Homo sapiens: one gene and its partners. The protein of the gene in region 4 interacts with the protein of the main gene of each other region in a pairwise test. Each region holds a gene or a part of one and is shown on either strand. Other genes may lie near its edges. The genes, in order: TMCO2, CMTM4, SCAMP1, PBX3, SFT2D2, TVP23B and RNF186.

Region 1 (4,816 bases), on a different chromosome or scaffold from region 4:
AGGTTTCACCGTGTTAGCCAGGATGTTCTCAATCTCCTGACCTCGTGATCCGCCCATCGTGGCCTCCCAAAATGCTGGGATTACAGGCGTAAGCCACCATGCCCGGCCTTAGCAAAATATTTTCACACCTATTTCATCTTTTGATTTTCACTGCAAACTGGAGAGGTAGGCAGGTCAGGCAGGATTATTATTTGCATTTAATCAAGATTGTAATAATAGATAACCATTTTCTGAATGTCTGGAAGTAACTTTGCCTTTGCATGATCTATTTATGCAGAAAAAACACAACTGGATAACTATATACCTTCTAGTTTGAACTCTGTCATTGTCCAAGGTTATATATTGGAAGTGGCAGAGCCAGGACAGGAATCCAGAAATTCACACTTCCAAGTACACTTTAGGACATAGTAGTCTGAAAAACTGGATTTCTTGGTCATGGAAAAGGTTTTTAAAATATACTAGGAGAGATCTGGGTACAATGGCACACACATATAGTCCCAGCTACTAGGGAGGGTAAGGTGGGAGGATCACCTGAGCCCAGGAGTAGTGTGCTATGATGGCACCTGTGAATGGCTACTGCACTTCAGCCTGGGCAAGATAGCCAGACCCTGTCTCTTAAAAAAATTAATGTATATATATATATATTTTATTTATATAAAATAAATTATAGGTGTGGACCACTGCATCCAGCACTTTGAGAGGCTGAGATGGGAGGATTGCATGAGGCCAGGAGTTAAAGACCAGCCTGAGCAACATAGTGAACGTAGCGAGACCCTGTCTCTACAAAAAAATTTTTAAAATTAGCCAAGCCTGGTGGTGCATGCCTATGGTTCCAACTGCTCAGGAGGCTGAGGCAGGAGGATCACCTGAGATCAGGAATTTGAGGCTGCAGTGAGCTATGATGACACCACTGCACTCCAGCCTGGGCGACAGAGCAAGACACTGTCTCTAAAACATAAAAAAAAAATAAAAAATAAAAATAAAGCATATGCTGGGCACGGTGGCTCATGCCTGTAATCCCAGCACTTTGGGAGGCCAAGGTGGGCGGATCACCTGAGGTCAGGAGTTCGAGACCAGCCTGGCCAACATGGTGAAACCCTGTCTCTACTTAAAATACAAAACATTAGCTGGGTGTGGTGGTATGCGCCTGTAATCCCAGCTACTCGGGAGGGTGAGGCAGGAGAATTGCTTGAACCTGGGAGGCAGAGGTTGCAGTGAGCCGAAATTGCACCATTGCACTCCAGACTAGGGGACAAGAGCAAGACTTCATCTCAAAATAAATAAATAAATAACAAAAGAATATGTATAGTAGGACAGATTCTTGCTAGGATAAGAAAAAAAATCATCTTGTTCCTTATTATAACAACTAGCACCACTTTTTTTTTTTTTGAGACACAGTCTTTGTCGCCCAGGCTGGAGTGCAGTGGCACGATCTTGGCTCACTGCAACCTCCACCTCCCGGGTTCAAGCAATTCTTCTGCCTCAGCCTCCTGAGTAGCTGGGACTACAGGCGCGTGCCACCACCACACCCGGCTAATTTTTGTATTTTAAGTAGAGATGGGGTTTCACTGTAGCACCACTTATTGAATATATGTGCTAAGATTTACACATACAATATCTTCTTTAATCCTCACAATACACATATATATGCGCATGCGCGTACACACACACACACACACACACACACACACACACACACACACACACATTCCTGTTCAAGATTTAGGTCAGTTGGTTTGCATTAAATGAGATTTTGGAGAAGAACTGAATTTCAAATCCTAAAAATTCGATTCAAACTCCAATTTTGCCAGCTCTTACAAACTATGTGAACTTGGGTGGGTAGCAATCAAGTTCTCTCATCTACAAAATGGAGCAAATAATCTCTCCCTGACTGTTATGCAGGATTGTGATGGTTTAAAATAGAAAGGCCCCGTGACCATGATTACTAAACAATAGTGACATATGAAAATAAGTGAATGCTAAAAAATGATCCAATAACAACTTCTCTCTGCATTTATCAAGTAAACTTGTCACTCTAAGAAAGCCGTTTTAAAAGCCTGTCACCTTAAGTTTCCACTGAACCTCAGTGCACCTCAGTTTCTTCACTTGTCATGTGAAAATAATCTCCATCCATTTCATGGAATTTTTGAGATTCTCAAAGCATTCAACTATATTGTATGTCAACTATTATTATTGGTGACTACACAGAAGTATGTAAAATCCTGTCTCTCACAATCCCAGCCAGTTAAATTCCTACTCCCCAAAGAGCTCCTATATACTTATGGAGCCTTATCTTGTCAAAACACAATAATGAACACATTGTGATGACTTAATACATATGCCTCCTTATCAGTTACAGAACAATGGCATAGTAAGAAAGGCCATACTCATGATCCTAGCTACTTTGGTGCCTATTGTATAAACATAGTAGCACTCAAAGATGAATAAGTGATCAAAAATTTTTGAGGGTAAGGCTGTCTTTTCAGGTTACCAACATGTTTGGTCTATTTTATTACAGAAGACAAGCCAAAGACCATTGTGAGAAAAGCATTTTTATGCCCAAAGCCTAATTGGTGGAGATTTTCAAGGATAACCTAGTTTTTGCCAACTTAAGAGACAAAGGTTCGCCTTTGCACATCTGCATGATCTTAAAACTGGTGGCAGCAATATGGGAGAGAACTAATCAAATTTCAATTTATAACTATATAAATGTTTGTAACAAAAGAGTATAACCTGAATTGACTGAATACTTCGTTTCCATAAGGCATATATTCCTATTCCCAATAAAATCAAGAAAGAAATCCTCAAGATGATTTGCACAGCTGGAGCAAGATTATCTAATAGTCCCAAACTTGTTTGCTGAGGTGCACTAGTCTCTCCCAAAAAACTTGCTTGTATCCAATTCCATACTGTGCTGAGAGAGAGAGACTCTAAGAGGTTGTCCCAGCTAGAAGATGAAGATGTTGACATTTTAATAAGCAGCAGCTCTAGGAACTACATGTGCAGAAGCTTCAGGAATCTAAATATGAGTTAGGGGGAGTAGTCTGGAGGCCTAGGTATTCCAGAGCCATTGTGAGCTGTGCTTTGTGATGTCACTGTTCCAAAGGTCAGCTTGCTTCCCACTCACCCAACCAATGAATCTTACTCAAAACCAACCAGGCACCGGCCTGGGTTTTCAGTTCATTCATATTGCTTTGTCTGATCTTTGGCTAGTTCTGGCTCTAGCATAGTGCTGTCCAGTACAACTTTTTGCAATAATGAAAATGTTCTTTATCTGCCATGTCCAATATGGTAACCACTAGTTACCTGAAATGTGAATAGTGCAGCAGAGATTGCATTTTACATTTTAACTAAATTTGGCTGGGCATGGTGGCTCACGCCTGTAATCCCAGCACTTTGGGAGGCTGAGGCAGGTGGATCACTTGAGCCCAGGAGTTCGAGACCAGCCTGGCCAACATGGTGAAATCTTGTCTCTACTAAAAATACAAAAATTAGCCTGACGTGGTGGTGCACACCTGTAGTCCCAGCTACTTGGGAGGCTGAAGCAGGAGAATCACTTGAACCTGGGAGGCAGAGGTTGCAGTGAGCTGATGTTGTGCTCCAGCCTTGGTGACAGAACGAGACTCCATCTAAAAAAAAAAAAAAAAAAGTTAAATAGCCACCTGTGGCTAGTGGCTTCTCTCTTGGTTAGTGTAGATCTACATTTCCAACAATTCAAATGGACAGCAGCTGTTGCAGCTGTTTTCACATAATAAAAAAAACTGAGTTGTATTGAGGTTGAATGGAAATGTGAGGAGATGGGATTTTTTATTTTTATTTTTTTGAGCTGGCGTGTCACTCTGTCGCCCAGGCTGGAGTGCAGTGGTGCGATCTCAGCTCACTGCAACCTATGCCTCCTAGGTTCAAGCGATTCTCCTGCCTCAGCCTCCTGAGTAGCTGGGATTACAGGCGCCCGCCACCACGCCTGGCTAATTTTTTGTATTTTTAGTAGAGATGGGGTTTCACCATTTTGGCCAGGCTGGTCTAGAATGCCTGACCTCAAGTGATCCACCTGCCCTGGCCTCCCAAAGTGCAGAGATTACAGGCATGAGCCACTGCACCCAGCAAGGAGGTAGGATATAAACAGGGCTTTTTTTTTTTTTTTTTTTTTTTTTTTTTTTTTTTTTTGAGGCGGGGTTTTGGTCTCGCCCTGTCTCCCAGGCTGGAGTGCAGTGGCGCAATCTTGGCTCACTGCAACCTCTGCCTCTGGGGTTCAAGCGATTCTCCTGGCTCAGCCTCCTGAGTAGCTGGGATTACAGGCATGTGCCACCACGCCTGGCTAATTTTTTTATTTTTAGTAGAGACGGGGCTTTACCATGTTGGTTAGGCTGGTCTCGAACTCCTGACCTCGTGATCCACCCGCCTAGGCCTCCCAAAGTGCTGGGATTACAGGCGTGAACCACCACACTCGGCCTTCAGTTTACCTTTAATAGTGGCATCCACCCACTCATCTGTCAGTCACTTCCACTCAGTAGTCTTCCATATCATGCCCTATTAGGACTTACTGACTTAGGCAATGCCTACTTTCAAGCCTTTGGTAAATTCTTTTTTTTTTTTTTTTTGAGACAGGGTCTCGCTCTGTTGCCCAGGCTGGAGTGCAGTGGTGCGATCTCAGCTCATTGCAACCTCTGCCTCCTGGGTTCAAGCGATTCTCCTGCCTCAGCCTCCTGAGTGGCTGGGACTACAGGCACGTGCCACGCCTGGCTGATCTCTGCATTTTTAGTAGAAATGGGGTTTCACCATATTGGCCAGATTGGTCTCGAACTCCTGATCTCAG
Region 2 (4,201 bases), on a different chromosome or scaffold from region 4:
TTTTTTGAGACAGAGTCTTGCTCTGTTGCCCAGGCTGGAGTGCAGTGGCGTGATCTCGGCTCAATGAAACCTCCGCCTCCCGGGTTCAAGCGATTCTCCTGCCTCACCCTCCCTAGTAGCTGAGATTATGGGCATGTACCACCATGCCCAGCTAATTTTTGTATTTTTAGTAGAGATGGGGTTTCACCATCTTGGCCAGGCTGGTTTCAAACACCTGACCTCAGGTGATCCACCCACCTCAGCCTCCCAAAGTGCTGGGATTACAGGTGTGAGCCACCACACCCAGCCCAGAAATACCTATTTAGTGAGCTTTCTGGAATTCTGCTTTTTCTATTTTAATCATGAAAGATTTTCCACTTGTTGACTACCACACTACCATGTCACCGGTCATGTTGAGGTGCATCTCTCCCCAGGGAAGTTGATACTCGTTCTTTTCCTCTGGGTGGTGGTGGCCTGGGCCTGTGGTTGGGTGTTGGTGATGTGGTCACTTGAGAACACGATCCTGTTCTTTGGGATCCGTTCTAGACTTTCCACTCTTTTGGAGCAGATAAAGGCTGTGTGTTTGCCCAACAAAAGGGCATATACCTTACATGAACTTGAGGAGATGGTACCTTTTTTTTTTTTTTTTGAGATGGGGTCTTGCTCTGTCGCCCAGGCTGGAGTGCAGTGGTGCGATCTCGGCTCACTGCAACCTTTGCCTCCCGGGTTCAAGTGATTTTCCTGTCTCAGCCTCCTGAGTAGCTGGGATTACAGGCATGTGCCACCGTGCCCAGCTAATTTTTGTATTTTTAATAGAGACGAGGTTTCGCCACGTTGGCCAGACTGTTCTCCAACTCCTGATCTTAGGTGATCTGCCCACCTCAGCCTCCCAAAGTGCTGAGGTTACAGGCGTGAGCCACTGCACCCTGCCAAGATGGTATCTATTAAAGGCAGCTCATGTCCAGTGTTCTCTGAGAGGGGTGAAAAAGTGAGCTCCTCACGGCCGATCTCAGCTCATCAACTCGCTACAGAAGGGTTGGCCTTGGCTGTGTTGTGTTTCTGTAACAAGGTGGTGGGAGTATTGGGAGTATTTTTGTCTCCAGCAGAGCCAGCCTGATGGTTAAAATAGGGTGTGATTGGTATAGATTTAAAAACACAGGTCATTCCAGGAGCCCAGGTTGACATAAATATGGATGAGAAATGATAAATAAGGAGGACAGTGCATAATTTTCTACAAGCATAATTTGATGGAATTTGAATGATTCTGTTAATGTCAAGTTTTTGGTTTGGGTTTATTTTTGGATGGATTGTGGGACTTTGATATATATATATATTTATATATATATATTTATATATATATATATTTATATATATATATTTTGAAACGGAGTTTCGCTCTTGTTGCCCAGGCTGGAATGCAGTGGCACAATCTTGGCTCAACGCAACCTCCACCTCCCAGGTTCAAACGATTCTCCTGCCTCAGCCTCCCGAGTAGCTGGGATTACAGGCATGTGCCACCACACCCGGCTAATTTTTTTGTATTTTTAGTAGAGAGGGGGTTTCTCCATGTTGGTCAGACTGGTCTTGGACTCCCAACCTCAGGTGACCTGCCCGCCTCAGCCTCCCAAAGTGCTGGGATTACAGGCGTGACCCACCGTGCCTGGCGATATTTGTTTTTCTCTGTGTCCTAGGAGCTCATACACTCACATGTTCCACCCCTGTTTACTTTGATTAGTGCCACGGGGCTCCTCCTTTCCTCCCCTTCCCTTCTGGGATGTGGCGCTATCTAAAAGGCGTGTCTGATCCTCCCCCATCCCAAAAGCCTGCCAGTGGCTCCCACTCAACTGGCCCCAGAGCCCAGGGCCAGCTCAGCCCCACTTCCCAGAAGAGGAGGTCTGCACTTGCCTTCTCTACTTCCCCCTCTCCTAATCTCACTTTTCTAATCTCTTATTGTCAAATTCTGAAAAAATTATGAAAGTAAATATGGAGTTTAATATACAGCCACCACCTGGGTCAATAAATAGGAGATTGTCAACACCCCAAAAGCTTCCCATGTGTATTTTCCAGCTAAACACACCCCCTGCCCCTTCCCCCAGTCCACCATCCTGACTATGTGGTGGTCTTCCGCAATTCATCTTCAGCCCACTCCAGTCTGGCAGCATTGAAAGTCCCCTGGTCAGGAGCCTGGGACGGGGCCTCCGTGTTCCTAGATCCTCTGGTTGCTCTTGGGTTCTCACCCCACTCAACATCCTGGTGGTGTCTGCTATGGGGCACTCTGTCCTTCCTGCCATACTCTCTCACCTTGCATCCTGGGCCCCCACACTGTCCTGTTTTTCTTCTTCCGCTTTGGTCACCCTTTCTTAGTGGGCTCTGTGGCCCTGGAGGCCTCTTAGGCCTCTATCTCAGAACCCAGGCTGGGTGCTGTGGTGGGTTGAGAACAGTTGGCAGTTACCCACAGGGGCCACTGGCTGAGCCCTGAGCCCTAGGGCGTGACTCGTCTTGTGTTTTTTTATTTTATTTTATTTTATTTTATTTTTTTATTGATCATTCTTGGGTGTTTCTCGCAGAGGGGGATTTGGCAGGGTCATAGGACAATAGTGGAGGGAAGGTCAGCAGATACACAAGTGAACAAAGGTCTCTGGTTTTCCTACGCAGAGGACCCTGTGGCCTTCCGCAGTGTTTGTGTCCCTGGGTACTTGAGATTAGGGAGTGGTGATGACTCTTAAGGAGCATGTTGCCTTCAAGCATCTGTTTAACAAAGCACATCTTGCACCGCCCTTAATCCATTTAACCCTGAGTGGACACAGCACATGTTTCAGAGAGCACAGGGTTGGGGGTAAGGTCATAGATCAACAGGATCCCAAGGCAGAAGAATTTTTCTTAGTACAGAACAAAATGAAAAGTCTCCCAAGTCTACTTCTTTCTACACAGACACAGCAACCATCCGATTTCTCAGTCTTTTCCCCACCTTTCCCCCTTTTCTATTCCACAACACTGCCATTGTCATCATGGCCCGTTCTCAATGAGCTGTTGGGTACACCTCCCTGACGGGGTGGTGGCCGGGCAGAGGGGCTCCTCACTTCCCAGTAGGGGCGGCCGGGCAGAGGCGCCCCTCACCTCCCGGACGGGGCGGCTGGCCGGGCGGGGGCTGACCCCCCACCTCCCTCCCGGACCGGGCGGCTGGCCGGGCGGGGGGCTGACCCCCCACCTCCCTCCTGGACGGGGCGGCTGGCCGGGCGGGGGGCTGACCCCCCACCTCCCTCCCGGACAGGGCGGCTGGCCGGGCGGGGGCTGACCCCCACCTCCCTCCCGGACGGGGTGGCTGCCGGGCAGAGACGCTCCTCACTTCCCAGATGGGGTGGCTGCTGGGTGGAGGGGCTCCTCACTTCTCAGATGGGGTGGCCGCCGGGCGGAGGGGCTCCTCACTTCTCAGATGGGGCGGCCGCCGGGCGGAGGGTCTCCTCACTTCTCAGACGGGGCAGCTGGGCAGAGACGCTCCTCACCTCCCAGATGGGGTCGCGGCCAGGCAGAGGCGCTCCTCACATCCCAGACGGGGCGGCGGGGCAGAGGCGCTCCCCACATCTCAGACGATGGGCGGCCGGGCAGAGACGCTCCTCACTTCCTAGATGGGATGGCGGCCGGGCAGAGATGCTCCTCACTTTCCAGACTGGGCAGCCAGGCAGAGGGGCTCCTCACATCCCAGACGATGGGCGGCCGGGCAGAGGCTGCAATCTCAGCACTTTGGGAGGCCAAGGCTGGCGGCTGGGAGGTGGAGGTTGTAGCGAGCCGAGATCACGCCACTGCACTCCAGCCTGGGCACCATTGAGCACTGAGTGAACGAGACTCCGTCTGCAATCCCGGCACCTCGGGAGGCCGAGGCTGGCGGATCACTCGCGGTTAGGAGCTGGAGACCAGCCCGGCCAACACAGCAAAACCCCGTCTCCACCAAAAAATACGAAAACCAGTCAGGCGTGGCGGCGCGCGCCTGCAATCCCAGGCACTCGGCAGGCTGAGGCAGGAGAATCAGGCAGGGAGGTTGCATTGAGCCCAGATGGCAGCAGTACAGTCCAGCTTCGGCTCGGCATCAGAGGGAGACCGTGGAAAGAGAGGGAGAGGGAGACTGTGGGGAGAGGGAGAGGGAGGGGGGAGGGGGAGGGTGAGGGGGAGGGGGAGAGGGAGAGGGAAAGTCTTGTGTTTTTTTTTTTCTGACACCAAATACATT
Region 3 (4,201 bases), on a different chromosome or scaffold from region 4:
TTACAGGTGTATGCCACCACACTTGGCCTCTGGGTCCTTTTTTTAATAGGGATATTAATCCCATTCTTGAGAGCAGAGCCCTGCTGACCTAGTCACCTCACAAAGTCTTCACCTTCTGATACCATCACGTTGGTGATAGGTTTCAGCATGTGATTTTTAAGGAAACAAACGTTCAGACCTTAGTTTTCATTTTGTAACATCAAGAATGTTATCCATCTTATTTCATTTACCTTGACAATGATACTTACAAGTTGATTTCACTCCTCCCTTATCTGTTTAAAATTTTGAGGCTGAGCTTGATAGCTCATGCTTGTAATCCCAGTGCTTTGGGAAGCCAAGGCAGGAGGATTGCTTGAACCCAAGAGTTTGAGACCAGCCTGGGCAACATAGTGAGACTTCCATCTCTACTAAAATTTAAAAGTTAGCTGGGTGTGGTGGTGCACACCTGTAATCTAAGCTACTTGGGAGGCTGAGGCGGGAGGGTGACAGAGTGAGACCCTGTCTCAAAAAAAAAAAAAAAAACCCAAAAAACAAACAAAAAAAAGATATAAAATTTTGAGTTTGGAGATTGGATAGCACTAGGAAAGTATTCTGAGGATTTCCTTTGTGATTGTCACATTTTGAAAACTGTCTTTTAACATTAATCTGGAACATAGTGGTTGCAGTTTGTGGGCCTGTGTTATTTTACGTTCATGTCAACTGCATGAATTCCTGCTCATTTTTCCTCATGTTAATGTTTTTAAAAAGCACATATTGAGCTGCTGTTATATTTCATCAACTTAAGATGCCATCCTTTGTAAGATGCACCATTATCTTATTTACCACTGTCTCACTTATCTGTTGCTATGTAACAATCCCAAAATATAATGGCTTAAAATAACAATTATTTGCTCACGATTCTGTTAATTGCGCTAGACTTAGCTGGGCAGGTTTTTTCTTTTTTTTAATGTTCTTTTCTGGAGTCACTAAAGTGGCTTCAGTCACCTGGTTTATGGTTTCAGATATCCTTACTCAAGTGCCTGCTGGTTACCTGGAGATGTCAGTGGGCACAGCAATTAGCTGTCTTTCATGTAGCCTCTCTACTAGTAATAAATGGGCTTTGTGCATAGTAGCAGCAGTGCTCCCAGAGGGCAAGAGCTGAATCTACAAGGCTTCTTGAATCATATGCTACTTCTGCTGTATTCTGTTGGTCAAAACAAGGCACAAGTTCAGCCTAGATTTTAAAAGGAGTGGCAAGCAATAGGCTCCACTTCTTGACTGGAGACAGACCTATGATCTGAAGATACACCTAGTATAAAATGGCGAGGTAGTCGTAGGATAACTTCACTAGACACTCCCATTCAAATAGGGAAAGAGTGGGAGGCGTGTAGCACCTGCTGATGCATAGCAGTTCTGAAATCTAGCCAGGCACGTGTTGTTAGGGTCCCCTACATTGGGGACAATGAATGTTTCTTGATTAGGGCCCAGTTCTGCTACCTCGTATTGGTTCCTTCACCTGTTATTTTCTTCTGCTTTTGGCTCCACCCTCTGAGAGGTCCTTTATTTATTTTTTTCTATAAGAATGAGCCCTTTTGGCAGCTGAGTAGCATTTTTGGCCTGCTTCTTGCCCATTGAAAATTGGGAGCCCAGAAGTTTCTATTAATTTTGAACTGTTTCTTTAGTCCAGGCTGTCACAACTCTCTTAACAGTTTCTTTTTAATCTTACCAGAGTTCAAACCATGCCTTAAAAACCACATTTGTCATTCTTTTTGAGACAATCTTCATTTAGGGTGAAGTGTCCGTTGCCATGGTCGGTATTCTTCAGATGTTTAGAAAACTTTTGTCTAGGTTGAGCATCTCATATGGCCAGGGGAAGGCTGCTGCCATAGGAGGCTGCTGTGCCACGTGACAAAACTAAGATTTGAACACAGTTTTATTTTGGCCCTGTAGCTTTACAGTCATATGAGATGATGGTGATTATGAAAATTTCGAAAGTAAACTGTTCTTGTGCTGATATTACCAAAAGTTTTTTTTGGACTATGATTAATATTTAATAGTGATAAATGCAGATCCAAATAATTTATTGGTTATTTCCTTAATATGAACCACCAGTGTGATATAGTTGCTGAAAAATATATATTGGCTTAGTGAAATTAGTGATCAGTTCCTTAAAATTAATAATCCTATAGTATTCTGTTCTGGTCTAATAGCTGGGTATTCTTCTCAATTGCAAGTGCATATTTAAAGAGTGGTTTGAAAATACTAGGATATGCCCAAAGAGGACAGTCAGAATGGTCATGGGACTGGAATCAAGTTCTAGGAAGAACAATTTAAGTTTCAATTACTCAGTGGATTTAGTCTACAGAGGGCTAAAGGGAAATAGGAGAGCTCCCATCAGATACTTAAAGTGTTCTTAGGTAAGTGAATAAACTTGTTATTTGTTGCTTTAGAAAAAGAATCTAAGGTTAACTGGCAAAGTTTACTTGAAGGTAAAGGTAAATTTTGTCCAAACAGACTTTTAAAAATCTGCTACCATGGCCTGACAATGCTCTTTTGGTAGGGCATTCTCCAGCACTTGCAGAAATTCAAGCAGAAGTTGGATAACCTACAGAGATGCCTAATTTCAATATTGTAATGTCTCAGGGAATAGGGAGACCCAAGGAGAGGGACAGAGAATGGGAACAACTGGTTGGTGGAATAGTCAGGACACACAATTTTTTTTTTTTTTTTGAGACAGGGTCTCTCTCTGTCTCCAAGGCTGGAGTGCAGTGGCGTGATCTCGGCTCACTGCAACCTCCACCACGCAGGTTCAAGCGATTTTCCTGCCTTAGCCTCCCGAGTAGCTGGGACTATAGGCGTGCACCGCCACACCTGGTTACTTTTTGTATTTTTAGTAGAGACGGGGTTTCACCATGTTGGCCAGGCTGGTCTCCAACTCCTGACCTCAGGTGATCTGCCTGCCTTGGCCTCCCAAAGTGCTGGGATTACAAGCGTGAGTCATCGTGCCCGGCCAGGACACATAACATTTATCAAGTAAGTTTGCAGTGTTATGGGCATGGTTTGTGGCACCCCAAGACAATTACAGTAGTAACATCAAGTATCACTGATCACAGATCACCATAGCAGACATAATGATAATGAAAAAGTTTGCAATATTGCGAATACTACCGTAGTGTGACGCTAGAGATGTGAAGTGAGCACATGCTGTTGGGAAAATGGTGCTGCGAGACTTGCTTGATGCAGGGTTGCCACAAACCTTCAATTTATTTTTTTAAAAAAGGCAATATCTGTGAAGTACAGTGAAACTAGGTATTCCTGCATTTTCTCTGTTCTAATATATCGACCATATTGGATATTGGAATTAAGTATGATCAGTTCAGCTAGAGAGGATGCTTTATGTTCAGAGACCAGCTATGCTCTGAGCCTCAGCTTCTGCTGAGGGAGCAGCCCTCATGGTAGCTTACACATTTGTGATCATGTCCTCTAGGGTGTGACTTTTGCCACCCTGGCCTCAGCTGACTGATCTTAACAAAGGTACTTGTCCAAAGCAGTGGAATAGCAGTTATCTCACTAGGCTTTTGAAGGCCATTTTCAAGAATTCCTGTCCTTCATTAGAGGTGTTTTTTAACTAGAAGGGATGTGCCATGTCATGAAGAATTTCAATCTCTGTGAAACCTGGCGTTCTTCTTTCTGTATATATCTTTAAAATATTCTCCTGCTCCCAGCATTTGGGGTGACCTGAGTGAGTCTGTCTGTTTCAACCAGAATTGCTAAACCGTAAGTGTAAAGTAACATTTTCTTGCCAAAAGGGTGATAGAGTTAAGCCTGTATTTAGACCTACAGTTTTTGGTGGTGTAGTGGAGTAATATACTTGCAAATATTGTAAGATGTTTTTAAATCACAAGGGAGAATTTTCCAACTTTCAGTGGGTGTGGGATATAAAAGGTGACATGGAGTTTGGTTAGATTTAACCTTGTAACAAGTCTCTGAGTTGTTCCTACTGAGGCAGTCTGTAATGTCCTGCAGCGTTTGACTTCATATGTGTAGACTGGTGTGGAAAACCCTGTTCTCCTTTCTGTGCAGAAGGCTTGCAGATCTATACCCAGAGAGCAATCCAGTAATCCCCTTCTCCTTGGCATTTGGCTTTGGGTGCTTTTCAGAATTAGTAATGTTTCTTTATCCATTGCTGGACACCTAAGTTGTTTCTGTTTTTTGTCTATTA
Region 4 (4,201 bases):
ATAAAAAAAAACCCTGGTGATTTGATGCTGGTATAAGCTGGGGCTAAAGTTACATAAAATCTCATGGAAAATTTTGTAGGATATTTCTAAAACAGTGAGACTCAGGACCTTGTCATTGACTGACACCAGCTTCACACAACTTCCACCAGAGTGTATGGAGAAAGTAAGGAGGCAGGTGTAAAGACACATGGCAAGAGGTAGTAAGGAATCACCTTAATTCCTCAGCCAAAAAACTCAGGCCATTTGGCCTCTAATATTATATCTCTTTCCATGCAAGGTGACTGGTAGTGTTTATCTAGTAAGTAGTTATAGTTATTTTAGCATAAAGTTATACAATTAGGATTATACTACAAATAAGAGTCATTTTCTACTGTTTATGCTCAGGGGCAACCTTTTCAACCATGACTTATTTTGTTTACTCTCAATTATTCATATGTCAAATCAGAAAGTGGGATTTTTACATACATACACACGATAATTTTTCCAAAATTCTTATTTGTACATTTTCCACAAGAAGTTATTCTTACAAATGAGACTAGACATACAATTTTAGATCTCAGAAAATCCTATTCCAAAAATAGAAAACACCTTATAATATTAATTTACACTACTTTTTAACTTAAAGCTATACAAATTTTTCTACTCTTCCTCAAAACACACTCACCTCTGGGATAGGATTCAGCATTTGCTTAATACCATTGTATCCAGAATATTAGAAAAGGCAATGTGAAAAAACAACGATATATATAATTGAAACTATACAGGGAATGTAGAGGGGAAAAAATCAGTATTAAAACTGATCAGGGGTTGCCAGGGATCAGTGGGAAGGAAAGAATAAAAGAAGAGAGGGATGAATAGCACAGAGGATCTTTAGGGCAGTGAAAATACTCTGCATGACCCTATAATGATGGGTACATGCCATCATAAATTTATCCAAATCCATAGAGTGCACAATACCAAGAGTGAACCCTAATGTAAACTATGGATTTTGGGTGATAATGATGTGTCAATGTAGGTTAATCAATTTTAACAAATGAACCCCTCTGGTGGGGGATGCTGATAATGGGAGAGACTATGCATGTGTGGGGACAGGAGGTATATGTGATATCTCTCTTCTTTCCTCTCAAATTGGTCTGTGAACTTAAAACTCCTCTTTAAAAGAGTCTTTAAAATACACACAAACACACACAAAACTCACCAGGACTCCCATTTCACACTAAAGTGTGTGGACTTTAAAAAGTACTTGCCTACATAGTGAAATACTCATGGGTGAAATTATAGGATGTCTAAGACTTGCTTTAAAATACTCTTACCAAATTGGGGCTGGGTACACAAAATAAGAGTGGCAAAATGTTGATAACTGTTTATCTGGGTAAAAAGTATCTAGCTGATTCTGATTCCTTATTTGGGGTTGAACTCTATGAAATTACCATATTCAACTGTTTTTGGCCTCAAAACTTAGCAATTTCATAGGGTTCAATCTAATACTATTCTCATTATTTTTGTGTACATGTATTATAAAATGTTTCATAATACGTTTTTAAAATTACCTTCCAAATGACAAATCTTATCAAATGAGAATTCCTCAAACTTGGCAGCTTTTCAGCATTAAACTAACAACTAAAATATATGTAAAAAGACCCACCAATATTTTACTTTATTACATTAAATCTAAGACTCTCTTGTTTTTCTCCACATTTTAACATCTCTGAAATGTGAAAGCATTTTATAATCAGTAATATTTTATAGTTAAACTAGCAGTATTAATTTTTTCTTGGTGTTACATAAAGATGCAACTTAAAGTTATCTGAGATTCAGTATGGTTAATATAATTGCTGAGAACCAGATTTTTAACCCATATTCTCTTTCTAATAAGGAATTTAGCACATAATGCCTTGCCTAGCATTCCCTGTCCTGGGGTACCCATAATTATCTTGGGAGGTCTCATACTCAGAGAAACAGGCCGGAACCTGCTTACTTGGTGAAGTTCCCTATAGTCTGGCACAATCCATAAGAATTAATTCCCAGGAGGATTCTGGAGCTCACAGCATAGGAGGGAAAAGCTCACTGTGCAATGCTTCCCTTCAAAAGTGATTAAAGCTTATGAACAAGGCTAGTGCATAAATGTTAATTATACAGAGCTTTGAAGAGCACCAAGTGGTGAGGTGAGAGGGAAGAATGACTGCAGGTGTGGTAATAAGGGCACGTGAATGTGCGGAATGAATAAAACTAAAACAAGTAGATGGGATAAAATAGGTAGCGCTCCTCCTCCAAAATCTCAAAGGGTCTTCCTTTCATGAATCCAACAATTCACTTGGATTTTTGCACTGACCTTATTTATTTTGTAATTTGTGTTAACACCTACCCCTCACAGCCCTCAGAATTGGTTAGCATGGTCTAATAGAAGAGCAACAGAGGGTTTGTGTAGGACTATGAGAGTGGCGGCTGCTGACCTGTTCATATTTCTCCAGTTCTGTGTGATAGATTTGTCTGATCTGGGTCAATTTGGCTCTGTAATCTGAGTGTTCAATAGAGTTATCTGAAGAACCTCCAGAGGCTGCCGCGGCTGCAGCTGCTGCCGCCGATCCCCCACCTTTCTCAGGACCTGAAACCCCTTCTGCCAAAAGCATATTGTCCAGTCTCATTAGCTGGGGATCGGGAGGGTCCTCCTCCTGGGCTCCTCTGATGCTGAGACCTTCAAGGAAAGAGAGAGAGAGACAGAGAGAGAAGAAGCGAGAAACAGAGGACAAATAGTGTGAGTATTTTGTTTATTCGAGAAAATGATCAAACAACATCAGTGTACTACAATTCATGCTGAGAACTTCATTGTTCACATTTGATCGGTAAGTTTGAATAAGTATGAAAATTATTTTTAAGATAGTGTTTACATGCACCCTAGAATTTTAAATACCCCCCCACCGCCTCAATTTACCACAGACTAGATCCTTAGAAAAAGGTAACCCTGGCTTCCTGGAATATTTTAATCATTCAAGCTTCCCAGATTTAGATAATTTAAGCATAAAATGGGAAGAGGGTAAAAAATTGAATGTTTTAAGAAAGAAAGAAAATAATTACAGGGATATAAAACAACTCATCCAAAGGTGGTTATTCTGTCTCTCTCTGTACAGTTGGAGAAACAGAATTAAAATTCCCATAAAATAGTTAATTCACAAGCTGTAATCAAAAATTGAAAAATAAACAACATTAGATGAGCTTTTCCATCGTGTGATTTCAGAAGAGGAATACACACATTATGAGGTAACTGGCTATACTTAAATATATATATATTATTAAATGAATATTGTTAAGCAATTGCCAGCAAACTATAAAACGAGGATACTAAATACAGTATTAAAAATGTGCCATTGACATGGCAATACAGTGCTGGGCACAGTAGTCTCAATCTAATTTTGCTTTTAAATCAAGAACTTCCTAAGTGATGCCCAGTCAGCAACCTCTTCTGAGTACTATAGATCATAGCTGACAATTCATAGGTTTAATCAGGTCACACAGGCTTTCTGCCAAAATGTTTTCAACAACACAGAAGACAAAGTTTTAAAATAATTATCATGGTATAAAAAGCATTGGAGTCATGACAGCTCAAAATCAGCATTTTCATTAATGTGTAACATAATCTAAAACATCCCAGCCCAATTAACCTCTGTAAATCTGCTTCAAAGCAGGTTCCCTACACTAGTTACAAGGCTTCTTGGGGAAGAGGGGAAAAGGAAGTTGGCACCTTGCTTGTTTGTATTTGGATTCTCTTTTGAGTCTGTGCCTGTTGTTGTTTATCCACAGTGGTACACACTTTGTGTCTAGTGTAACTTACATGACATAACATCTATAAGCTGCCAAGTACTCAACTGATCACCAACTCTGATTTTATATGCTAACCTAAAGCTACCGTCAATTCTTTTAAGAACAGATTTCATTCCTAGATGCCCTGAATTACATCCATGGCATGACAGAGCTCTTGGTTGCCTTAACACAAATGCAAAACTTTAATTTCTTCCCCAAAACACTTTAAAGCTGTCACTTTCATTTAAAATTATACTTCAGAATAATTTCAACTGGATAATAAAACTAACTCACCATAATTTAAAATTTTATCTGTTGTCTATTCAGAGGCAAATAAGGTTTGAAAACTATAATATACTAAGACAATATATTCATTTAGGAGAGCAAAAAGATAACTCATAAA
Region 5 (4,201 bases), on a different chromosome or scaffold from region 4:
TGAGTTATATGTCTGTCTGCCTGGCAGGGACCAAACTGGACTTGTCTTTGTATCCTCTGAGCCCAGCACAGAGTGTGATCAATGCTTACCCATTGAGCATGCAAGTCAGTCAGTGAAGCACAAACAGCCATGGGGACAAAGAGGAAGGAGCCAGTAAGACAGGGTTACATCAAGCCCTGGTGAGGAATCATGGAGGGGAGACTTGGACCCCCAGGACTCTGAAGCCATTTACAGAGACACAAGGGAAGGGAAAAGGGGGAAACAAGATGACTGAGCTCAGGTTCCTGCAGGTCATTCAGGTAGAGGCCAGGCCAGTGCTCCCAGTTGGAGAGGGTGGAGTTGTTGGCACCAGTGTGACTGAAGCATCAGTGTGAATGAGCTTGACCTGGAAAATGTGTGCATCCACAACATGCAGAATGGGCTGCCCACCTCCAGGAAGCGCTCAGATGCCCTGCCCACATGAGCTGCTACTCAGGTCTGGGAAGGTCTGACACTAAATAAAAACCAGTTTCCCTTATGGCCACTGGAGTGATGAGCCCTTTGAAAACCATCAACTCAATCTCTGACAGCAGTAAGAATACAGCAAGCAGGAGGACTGGGTTGTAAACCCTGGAGAAATCACTGAACTGCTTTGTGTCGCAGTTTCTGTACATGTAAAATCACGATGGCAAAACATTTGCTGCTTTCTCCCAGGTGTTTCAAACTAAGATATAAAATGTTTTCAAATAATAAGATATGAATGTGAGATATTCTAACTACTTCTCTCCAAATTCCTTACAACTACTGGAGCCTCCTCTTTCACCTCCCTCAAGGGCAACCAACATCCATTTTCCCATCTAATGATTGGCTAAAATTGGATTTTTAAAAAACAGTTACCTCCCAATTGATGCGATATTACCAAAGGTATAAAACACTGCGAAGAGGTGTAGTCCCTTCCTGGGCACCCACAGCAGAACAGTACCCTGGAATTTAAAGTACAGTGTTTGCACATGAGCAACCCTCCCACCCGGCCACACAAGCAGAGCTCCCAGAGGAAGCCCTGAGGAGTCCGTTTCCCTCCCCACCTCCCTTATTCCCCTCTCCTCTCATCCATGCATTTTAGTGAAGGGCAAAAGGGGAAAGGAGGTGGACAAAAGGGGGAATATATAGCAAAGACAGGTAGAAGGAAAAGACAGAGGAGGAAGGGAAATCTTACCAGCAGTGAGCAGAGAATTCCTATAGCAAAACACGCAATGAAGCCTTTTATCCTGGTACTCCAGCTTAATGAAGATGCCTCAACAACCTAAAATTGAAAAAAAAAAAATACATATACACACACATTTACTAAAAACAAAGCAAGCACATAACTAAATCTAGAAAGTGTTAAGTTGTATTAGGGAAGGCAAGGAGCACAGAATCCTACACACTCAGGCGATGTAAGTCATCAAATCCAGACTTTATCAGAGCTGTAAAGTTATTATGCAGACATGAATCTCCTCTCTAGCAGCTGACAGCTGTGCCTCCAGCTGAACATCTTCAGAGGTAGAAACTCCTTGCCTCAAGCACAACCCATTTCAAGAACAGGAAGGCAAGACAGCCAATCCTAGAGTAGCCCAGAGCCTTCCTACAACCCAGGCAGGATGAAGACCACACCTGGAAAGGCATGCGTCCACCAGGGACTCACAAGTCCACCTGGGATCCTCCACCAGGCAGGGTCCCAGGAAATAAGGAAAAGATGAGGGGACGGCACTCAAGCAGCTGCTCCACTGGTCATCGTCTCCTACATCAACTCTCACCCACATTATTCACTCTTGGTTCAGATATTGTACTTACAGGATGCTGGCATCAGCCAACTCATCCAAGTGGGAGACAGATCCTGGTTAATTAATTACTGTCCTGTTACATCCTGAGTCTTTGCCATCATGATTAATCCCTCCCTGGAGCAAAGTTCAGGGGAAGCCAGGAGTTCCAAAAACACTACTGAAACAGGAGAGCCTGTGAGTAGCTCCCAGTGGTTCTTTTCCCATGTCAAAAATGACAACAGCCAGGCACAGTGGCTCATGCCTGTAATCCCAGCACCTTGGGAGACCAAGGTGGGCGCATCACCTGAGGTCAGGAGTTCGAGACCAGCCTGACCAACATGGCGAAACCTTGTCTCTACTAAAAATACAAAAAATTAGCCAGGTGTGGTGGTGCATGCCTGTAATCCCTGCTACTTGGAAGGCTGAGGCAGGAGAATTGCTTGAACCTGGGAGGTGGAGGTTGCAGTGAGCCGAGATCATACATTGTACTCCAGCCTGGGCAACAAGAGTGTAACTCTGTCTCGGAAAAAAATGACATCAAAGTTTTTGCACTGGTGACCCTACCAGTCTGTCCACCTGATGCAAGTGGGAACAGTTGTTCCAAGCTGGACAAAGACAGCTGCCGTAAGAGACCAACACCACACAGGGCAGCTAGGCCATGTATATTCACACAGGGCTCACCTTGTATGGCCAGCATAGTCTCCATCTAGCAATGTGGTCAAAGTTTCCTACTATATTTCCACCCAGCTGATGGAAGAAGGTAGGTAGTGGCAGAAAGTCAAGAGTCATTAGACTGGCAACTCCGTCAGCCTTGACTACCCCCAGCTCAGGGATCTGTTTTCAACCCTGTCTCCAGAGTTCCCGTCAAACCAGAAGCTTGAAAAGAAGGATGAGAGGCTCCCCTCAGGTGTGGCACGTATTGCCAAAGACTACCTTACTCTCCACTCAGGAGAAAGGTATTTAGGTCAGGTTATACATTCATATATATGGAACTGGGCTCATGACCCTGCACAGAAGGCACAAATTAGGGATGATAACAGACAGCAGGGGCCCAGTGTTAAGATCTGACAGATGAGCCACCTGGTTTTACGCTGAGGTAAACCTCTCCTGGAGGAGTCTGGTTTCCCAAACCCCCTTGGACTCCAAAATGAGCCATGTGATGATGCTCTGGTAGCAGGCTTTACAAGGCCCCAGACAATCTAGTCAGGCTACTTCGGACTAAAGCATTTAAGCTCTCGCCAAGGACAGAATAAAATGAGAAGCTACCACTCTTCCTAGTCATGCAAAAACCAAAGAACTTACCTTGCCAAGGTGCGAAAAGAACTAGCTGCAGGTGGGAAGAAAAGAGCGGTAGTAGGATTGGCCTGGCTTGTTCGTAGGAAGAAGAGTGGTAGTGGGATTGGCATGGCTTGTCTGTAGGAAGAAGAACGGTAGTAGGATTGGCCTGGCTTGTTCACAGGAAGAAGCATGGTAGTAGGATTGGACTGGCTTGTCAGCAGCAAGAAAAAAGTGGTAGTAAGATTGGACTGGATGGTTCCCTGAGCACCACATGGCATCAACACGGATAATTTTAAAAGATTCAACCTTTCTATTTGAAGAGGATAAACCATAAGGTTAAGAATGAAATTTGAATTGGCTTTGACATCTAGATTGCTAAATAACCTCAACAGAACAGTGAGATTCCAGAGAATGGCCTGAACCCGGGAGGCGGAGCCTGCAGTGAGCCGAGATCGAGCCACTGCACTCCAGCCTGGGCGACAGAGCGAGACTCCGCTCAGTCTCAGTGAGATTCCAGCCCTCACACAAATCAAAATAACCACAATAGGAAGCAGTTCAGCCAAGAATGTGTTTCTGGTTTCTACCTTCAGAAAGGAAAGTGACACTCCATATCCAAGTCTCTCAAGCTGAATCCATCCAAATGTTACTCTGTTTGCCAAAATGGAAGGGGTGGGGGGCATATTTCACCACTGTATTTTTCCATTACATGTGGTTGCAAGTTCTTTTACATTCACACTTGGTCAGGGAAGGAGGAAGCTGTTGTTCCACTTCTCATAACTGGACTCAGTGAAAGCAAAACACTTCTTTTTGCCAAATTATGAAAACAAACTCATAAAATGTCTGTAAATTCATGACTGCTGGAAGCTGTGCTAGCATATTGTTTTTGGAAATTAGAGTAGCTAAAATGGTACCTGGATGGAATTTGTAGGCAATGCGCTCACAGGCAGTCTGACTGGCAGTTATTCACAAAGGTCCCTTTCACTCTGTGATGTGGAGAGAAGAGGGGCTCTTGCCAAGAATAATACTAAGAATTGTTCAGAAAAACAGGATTGGTAACCAGAAGAAGGTAAGAAAGAAATACTGCTTCATTTCCACACTTTAAAATTAGATACTATTCATACCTTTCTTGTCCCCAGAATCCT
Region 6 (4,201 bases), on a different chromosome or scaffold from region 4:
CTGAGACCATACCACTGTACTCCAGCCTGGGCGACAGAGCAAGACTCTGTCTCAAAAAAAAAAAAAAAAACCTTGTCTTCTAGGTCCTCCAGCAGCTTAATCTATATGGAGGTAGGAGCGGGTAGATGTGCAATAAGAATACTCTGAGATGATTGTTCAAATGGAGATTCGTCCAAGTGCTGTGGGAACATGGGGATTTCAGAGACAGGTTTTCAGCTATTTCAGTATTTGAGCTAAAAAACTTGAAGGATGATTTGGTATTTGGTGGTGAGCAGGGCATGAGGAAGGGAAGAGTTTTCTGAGACAACATGTGAAAGGCAGGAGATGGGAGAGAGATTGTAGTGTTCTTAGAGACCATGTAGTAACAGTATTGCTTCAGTGCTCAACAGTGCTCAATGAAGACAGTGTCAGAAGCAAGTAGGGGGCATTAGATTCTGTGATCTTCTATGCTTTATGTGAAGGAGTTAAATTTTATCCTATACTTGTAGGGATGCCATTGAAAAATTTGAGCAGTAGAGTGACATGGTGTGATTTCCATATTGGGAGGATTGCTCTGGGTAATGTAAAGGAGAGGCTGGAATAGAGAGGGATAAAGGCAGGGAGGCTGGTGAGTGCCACTAGGAGAGGAACAGGATCAGGTTTGTTGTAGTTGAGGGGAATTGCAGTGAATTGAGGCGTGAACCACTCTTAGAAGCCTAAGGTTATGGGGCCGGGCATGGTGGCTCACGCCTGTAATCCCAGCAATGGGAGGCCGAGGCGGCTGGATCACAAGGTCATGAAATCTCCTGGTTAACACGGTGAAACCTGTCTCTACAAAAAAAAATACAAAAAATTAGCCAGGCATGGTGGCACGCGCCTGTAGTCCCAGCTACTTGGGAAGGTGAGGCAGGAGAATCACTTGAACCCAGGAGGCAGAGGTTGCAGTGAGTTGAGGCCACGCCACTGCACTCCAGCCTGAGCGACAGAGCAAGACTCCATCTCAAAAAAAAAAAAAAAAAAAGCCTAAGGTTGTAAAAGGAAGCAATGCTTTGGGAAGGTAGAGGATTGAAGGGGAGATTCAGGATCAGGGTTCTTAAAAAAATCTTTTTTTGCCTAATAAGTGGCCTTGAAGAAGTTTATATGCATATGCTGATTAGAAAGATTCAATAGAGGCCGGGCGTGGTGGCTCATGCCTGTAATCCCAGCACTTTGGGAGGCTGAGGCGGACAGATCACCTGAGGTCAGGAGTTCAAGACCAGCCTGGCCAACATGGTGAAACCCCGTCTCAACTAAAAATACGAAAATTAGCTGGGTGTGGTGGCACACGCCTGTAATCCCAACAACTTGGAAGGCTGAAGCAGGAGAATCGTTTGAACCCGGGAGGCGGAGGTTGCAGTGAGCCAAGATCGTGCCATTGCAGTCCAGCCTGGGTGATGAGCAAAACTCCATTTCAACAACAACAAAAAAGAAAGATCCAATAGATAGACTTGAAGATAGAAGAAAGTGTAAATACAGGGGAAAATGATGAAACAAATCCCCGAGGAGGCATGAAAAGAAGTTATTCTGAGCACAAATAATTGGTTTAGCCTTGGATAAGAAGAGGAGGAGTTGTGAGAAGGGGTCATGGAACTAAGGATGCAGTCAGATGATTTTGTGAAGGAGCCAGAAACCTTGAGATTATCCCCAGTAGCCTCGGCTTGCTCTGTGACTTGGGAGAGAACAGGTGAGGAGGACAGGTGTTAAGTTGTAGTAGCCTCATCTGCACCCTAGAGTTTTCTCAGATGGTGCAGCCTAGGGGCAGGGATGGAGGAGCTGAGACTTCGATTATTCTCTGGGTTTTTTGCCAGATGATTTGAGGAGGCGGGTGGAGGATCTGCATGTGTCCTTTTCCTAGGTTTTGAATTCCTGATGCTGTAACCACATTATTTTATCTTCTATTTTGATGAGTATGCAGCTTTGCATTGCAGTGGCTGTGTAAACACTGAATTTTGTTTTGCTTCTTGACCATTTATTTTTCCTACCAGGATAGTAATGATGACACTGAAGATGTTTCACTGTTTGATGCGGAAGAGGAGACGACTAATAGACCAAGAAAAGCCAAAATCAGGTAGGAGGAGAGAAGTTGCATGAGCTGTGTTAGTGTCCAGTGCTGTTCTGTATGTATGTCAGTGCTAGCTGATGGGAGTCAAGGCAGAGTTGTTTCAATGTGCTTGTGAATACTGCATGTTGCTAATTTGACGTTTAGTGTACGACAAAGATGACATTTCAGATTTTCTTGTGAATAATTGGCATACTTAATACTGAGTTTTAAAATCAGCAAATCCAATTATTTGAACACCTGTGTTTTTAATTCTGTGCTATTTTCCAAGAATGTACCATTTCTTTATATAGTTTCTATAGATACATTACATTTTGATTTATTGTGCACATTTCAAAATCACATAACATTTCTATTCTAAATTTAATTCTCTCTAAAGAAATTCACTTACTGAAAGCAAATTCTACTTGAACCCTGCTAAAATGCTGTCTTTTACTTTTCTTTCATCTTTCATGCCAGTCACAAAAGACCACATATTGTATGATTTCATTTATATGAAATGTCCAGAATAGGCAAATCTGTAGAGACAGAAGATAGATTAGCTGTTGCTAGAAGCTGAGGGGTTTGAAGGTAAATGGGGAATGACTGCCAGTGGGTACAAAGATTCTGTCTGGGGTAATGAAAAGTTGTAAAATTGGAGTGATGGTTGTACAAATCTGTGAATGTACTAAAAACCATTAGATTGTTTACCTTAAATAAGTAAATTGTATGATATGTGAATTATATCTCAAAAAAGCTATTAAAAAACAAGAAACAGGCTGGGCACGATGGCTCATGCCTGTAATCCCAGCACTTTGGGAGGCCGAGGCAGGTGGATCACGAGGTCAGGAGATTGAGATCATCCTGGCTAACATGGTGAAACCCCATCTCTACTAAAAATACAAAAAATTAGCCGGGCGTGGTGGCAGGCGCCTGTAGTCCCAGCTACTTGGGAGGCTGAGGCAGGACAATGGCGTGAACCCAGGAGGTGAAGTTTGCAGTGAGCCGAGATTGTGCCACCAAACTCCAGCCTGGGCGACGGAGCGAGACTCCGTCTCAAAAAAAAAAAAAAAAGAAAAGAAAGAAAGAAACAAACTACCTGATAACTTTGTCTTAATGTCTGAGTGATTTCTGAGGGCTAAGGAATTCTTTTGGTGTGATTTGAAAATAGGATTCAAATTCTAAGATACAGTTTCCTTATTTCTCCAAGAGAGATAAAATTCTTTATTATCTATTTTGTGAAAGTTTATATTCAATGAGGTGTTAAAGTCATCTGTGCATAGTGTATTTTCTGTAACTACAGGGCCTAGTCAAATAGTGGGGCTTAAGAAAAAGAGAGCTAGGAGGTTTGCTTCATCCTACTAAAGTCACCTCTTTTATTTTGACAAAACTCTTCACAGTTACACGATGGCTAAAACATTTTTCTCTACATTTGCTAGTACCTGTAGTAAAATGTAATTGCATTTCTTTCATTGTGTTTTGGTTTTCAGACATCCAGTAGCATCGTTTTTCCACTTATTCTTTCGAGTCAGTGCAATCATCGTCTATCTTCTCTGTGGGTTGCTCAGCAGCAGCTTTATTACCTGTATGGTGACAATTATCTTGTTGTTGTCGTGTGACTTTTGGGCAGTGAAGGTAATTTTGATTGTTTTTATTTTAAAATTATATTTAATATGAAAATGATGTATAAAAATATGAGTTAGCATTTTGCATTATTGTTAATCTTTTGTTACTTCAAACCTCATCTGTGTTGAAGTGCTAGATATATCAAATTGCATGTAGTTTTTTTTTTTTTTTTTTTTTTTTTCATTTTTTCCCTTTGACAATACAAGATGAGACATGCAGGTTACTGTGCTGCTGATTTTTCTGTGCCATATTCTAACCTACATCAGCTTTAAAGTCAAATAAACAAACAAAAGTGACTAGCAACCATAGACCCTACAATGTTGCTTCTAATCCATACCATGGGTTTTGCTTCAGGCTTACCTGTAGGTGTGTTGTATATAATTTCTAGATAAGGCCCCAGTGTAGTTTGTCCACAAATACCTAAAAAATACCTACCTTTTGAAAAGGCTCCTATGGATGCTTTAAGGCAGTGTTTCTCAACCAGAGACAAGCTTGCCACCCACTGAATATTTGTCAGTG
Region 7 (2,888 bases), on a different chromosome or scaffold from region 4:
GCCTGAATGAAACATTTGTTTGAGGGAGTGCACATGCCACCCCGCCATTTGCCCTTGAGGGCAAAGTAAGGAAATCACGTTTTCCTAACTGCTGTGTTACTAATATCTGCCTGTCTCACATGAGTCCTCTTAGCCTACGCCACCCGGCTGGGGCCAGTTGTGTCCAAATGAACCAATGAAATTGATTCAACCAGACCTTGGACGCTGGTAGATTCCACAAGGTCCTGCTCCATGGAAGGCCCCTTGGCAGGCAGCCAGCAGCCTACCCTGACCACACCCTGCCCTTGTTTCCCAGCCTTCCCTACAAGGCTGTATCAGGGTTCCGGGAAATGGGGGCTGGGGACCCCGGGCACAGGGCTTGGCTTAGAGTAGGCCCAAATAAATGGCAGCTGTTCTTAGTACTACTGGATACGCAGCATGCCTAGCACAAAACAGGACACCTGTGATTAGGCATGTGAAGTGTGCAGCAGGGCACCGATGGGAAGTTCATACACCCGTAACTGTGAATACAACAGCTGTGGCTCTAAGGAAATGAATACAGTAGCAGGTGCCAAACACCTGTGCGCTGTATGTGGTTTTGTTTTTCTGCGTTGGGTTGGGCTTTGTCCTCCTTCCACTCACTTTTCTTACCTCTCCCCTCCTCTTTCCAAGGCCACCTGCCTGTAAATGTGCTCCAAGTGCAAACAAACTTTTTTCCACTCATCCTGACATCCAAAAGTTTGTGTCTGAGAAAGCAGTGTCCACCAATCCACCTATGTCCGACTCATAGGGCTGTCTGTTTATTGTGCAGATTTGTAGATGCCAGTGAGCCAAGATCGGGCCACTGCACTCCAACCTGAGAGAACGAGACTCCGTCTCAAAAAAAAAAAAAAAAGTTAAATAAAAAAAATTAATAAAAGGTTCAGGGACCTGGGAAGTGGGGGTGAGAGAGTTGGATTCTGCTGCCTCCTAAAGCTTGAGCCACAGTTCTGTGGGCACCCACCAGGTACCTGGCCCCAACAGGAAAGTCCTGATTCACTAGACCCTTGCCCACTTTGCCCTCCTATCAGGCAATTCAAAGTCTCCAGACCCGCAAGTTACTGATTAACCCTAGGTTTTGAGAAAATAAATAATAATAACTGAAGGGACGACGTAAGCCAAGAAACAAGCTGGGCAGCTCTGGGAGAGAGGAGTGTCAGACAGCTGTTGTCAACAGGCACCTGGCCAGAGTGAAAAGGAGGGGCAGATTCCATCCAAGTCCCAGCGGCGCCAGCTGACACTCTCTGCCAATGCCCAGGTGCTGAGCGACAGTGTCCCACCGGTCCCTGTGCCCAGAATGGCCTGCACCAAGACCCTGCAACAGTCCCAGCCCATCTCCGCAGGAGCCACCACAACCACCACCGCTGTGGCCCCTGCTGGGGGTCATTCTGGCTCCACAGAATGTGACCTGGAGTGTCTGGTGTGCCGGGAGCCCTACAGCTGTCCCCGGTTGCCCAAGCTGCTGGCCTGCCAGCATGCCTTCTGCGCCATCTGCCTGAAGCTCCTGCTGTGCGTGCAGGACAACACCTGGTCCATCACCTGCCCGCTGTGCCGCAAGGTCACCGCCGTCCCCGGGGGCCTCATCTGCAGCCTGCGCGACCATGAGGCGGTGGTGGGGCAGCTGGCCCAGCCATGCACAGAGGTATCGCTCTGTCCTCAGGGGCTGGTGGATCCTGCTGACTTGGCAGCAGGACACCCCAGCTTGGTGGGAGAGGATGGACAGGATGAAGTAAGTGCAAACCACGTGGCAGCCCGGCGCCTGGCCGCGCACCTACTCCTGCTGGCCTTGCTCATTATCCTCATCGGGCCCTTCATCTACCCGGGTGTCTTACGATGGGTGCTCACCTTCATCATCGCCCTGGCCCTGCTGATGTCCACCCTCTTCTGCTGTCTCCCCAGCACCCGGGGCAGCTGCTGGCCCTCCTCCAGGACTCTCTTCTGCAGAGAGCAGAAACACAGCCACATCTCTTCCATTGCCTGAGTGCCCTCTGATGAGGCTATCCCTGCAGCCCTTTCTGCCCTTGGGCCCCCGGACTTCCACAATGAACAGGGTAAGGGGTTACGGACTAAGACTGGCTCCTTTGGGAAATCACATGCCAGCGGGACTTGCAAGCCACAACCGAGATGGCCAGCCTGGGTCAAGAATTACACGCTTGGATGACAGGCTTGCACTTGCCCTTGGGATAGCATAGCTAAAACTGTTGGTGGCTAGGGGAGCAGACACAAACTACTTGAACATGACAAGATGGGGGAAGCTCCTGTTCCTCTTATTCCAATGTTCTTGGTTTTTCTTTATATAACTTGATGAAAGTATTGCAGTATTGATGCCATTGTAGAATAGAACTGGAATTCCATTCTTTTTGCAATTTATGTAGCTGGTTTTGTTTTCTTGTTTTCCTTTGTTTTTTTGGGTTTGGGGCAGCAGTTGGTTCACATTTCCCTTTGTTACACATTTTCCCTCCTGGGAGCTTGGAGTCCACGGGGAGGTCCCACTGCGCTTCCTCTAACACTGAGCATCTCATGCCCAGCCTAGCCTCGGCAAGTGTCCTGGTTGTTTAGGTCTCCCATGGAGTTGACCCTAGGGTTGGGGAGACAAAATGTGTGTGAAGGGATGGTGTTTCTGAAGCTGCAGGGGGAGTCCCACATTTAGCTGGCAGAGATGGGGAGGGGTGGAGAGGGCAGGGTTTGGGAATTGCTCCCAGTATCCTCACTAGGAGTTCCCCACTCCGTGCCACTAGGCCCTGACTTAGCAGCAAATCTCGGGGTTACAAGGACTGCAGTCCACATACAGTGGGGCCAGCTGCCCATCTATTGCACAGTCCCACACGGTAGAACTAGATCTTTATGGATGTTACCGTCTTTGTTATTGC

Evidence for each region.
Region 1: the proteins of PBX3 (region 4) and TMCO2 interact in a two-hybrid assay, tested with the Homo sapiens proteins (one large-scale study listed by BioGRID).
Region 2: the proteins of PBX3 (region 4) and CMTM4 interact in a two-hybrid assay, tested with the Homo sapiens proteins (one large-scale study listed by BioGRID).
Region 3: the proteins of PBX3 (region 4) and SCAMP1 interact in a two-hybrid assay, tested with the Homo sapiens proteins (one large-scale study listed by BioGRID).
Region 5: the proteins of PBX3 (region 4) and SFT2D2 interact in a two-hybrid assay, tested with the Homo sapiens proteins (one large-scale study listed by BioGRID).
Region 6: the proteins of PBX3 (region 4) and TVP23B interact in a two-hybrid assay, tested with the Homo sapiens proteins (one large-scale study listed by BioGRID).
Region 7: the proteins of PBX3 (region 4) and RNF186 interact in a two-hybrid assay, tested with the Homo sapiens proteins (one large-scale study listed by BioGRID).

Annotation. Positions count from the first base shown.
Region 1 is NC_000001.11:40,246,148-40,250,963, reverse strand, and holds the start of TMCO2 (transmembrane and coiled-coil domain-containing protein 2), read right to left. Parts: upstream 3,028-4,816; 5' UTR 2,971-3,027; coding exon 2,734-2,970; intron 1-2,733.
Region 2 is NC_000016.10:66,630,245-66,634,445, reverse strand, and holds part of CMTM4 (CKLF-like MARVEL transmembrane domain-containing protein 4), read left to right. Parts: intron 1-4,201. UniProt on the Homo sapiens protein: Acts as a backup for CMTM6 to regulate plasma membrane expression of PD-L1/CD274, an immune inhibitory ligand critical for immune tolerance to self and antitumor immunity. May protect PD-L1/CD274 from being polyubiquitinated and targeted for degradation.
Region 3 is NC_000005.10:78,366,416-78,370,616, forward strand, and holds part of SCAMP1 (secretory carrier-associated membrane protein 1), read left to right. Parts: intron 1-4,201. UniProt on the Homo sapiens protein: Functions in post-Golgi recycling pathways. Acts as a recycling carrier to the cell surface.
Region 4 is NC_000009.12:125,914,180-125,918,380, reverse strand, and holds part of PBX3 (pre-B-cell leukemia transcription factor 3), read right to left. Parts: intron 2,696-4,201; coding exon 2,454-2,695; intron 1-2,453. UniProt on the Homo sapiens protein: Transcriptional activator that binds the sequence 5'-ATCAATCAA-3'.
Region 5 is NC_000001.11:168,228,595-168,232,795, reverse strand, and holds part of SFT2D2 (vesicle transport protein SFT2B), read right to left. Parts: intron 1,283-4,201; coding exon 1,196-1,282; intron 963-1,195; coding exon 877-962; intron 1-876. UniProt on the Homo sapiens protein: May be involved in fusion of retrograde transport vesicles derived from an endocytic compartment with the Golgi complex.
Region 6 is NC_000017.11:18,787,350-18,791,550, forward strand, and holds part of TVP23B (Golgi apparatus membrane protein TVP23 homolog B), read left to right. Parts: intron 1-1,685; exon of another isoform or gene 1,686-1,702; intron 1,703-2,003; coding exon 2,004-2,086; intron 2,087-3,546; coding exon 3,547-3,691; intron 3,692-4,201.
Region 7 is NC_000001.11:19,813,529-19,816,416, reverse strand, and holds RNF186 (E3 ubiquitin-protein ligase RNF186), read left to right. Parts: upstream 1-1,133; 5' UTR 1,134-1,315; coding exon 1,316-1,999; 3' UTR 2,000-2,388; downstream 2,389-2,888. UniProt on the Homo sapiens protein: E3 ubiquitin protein ligase that is part of an apoptotic signaling pathway activated by endoplasmic reticulum stress.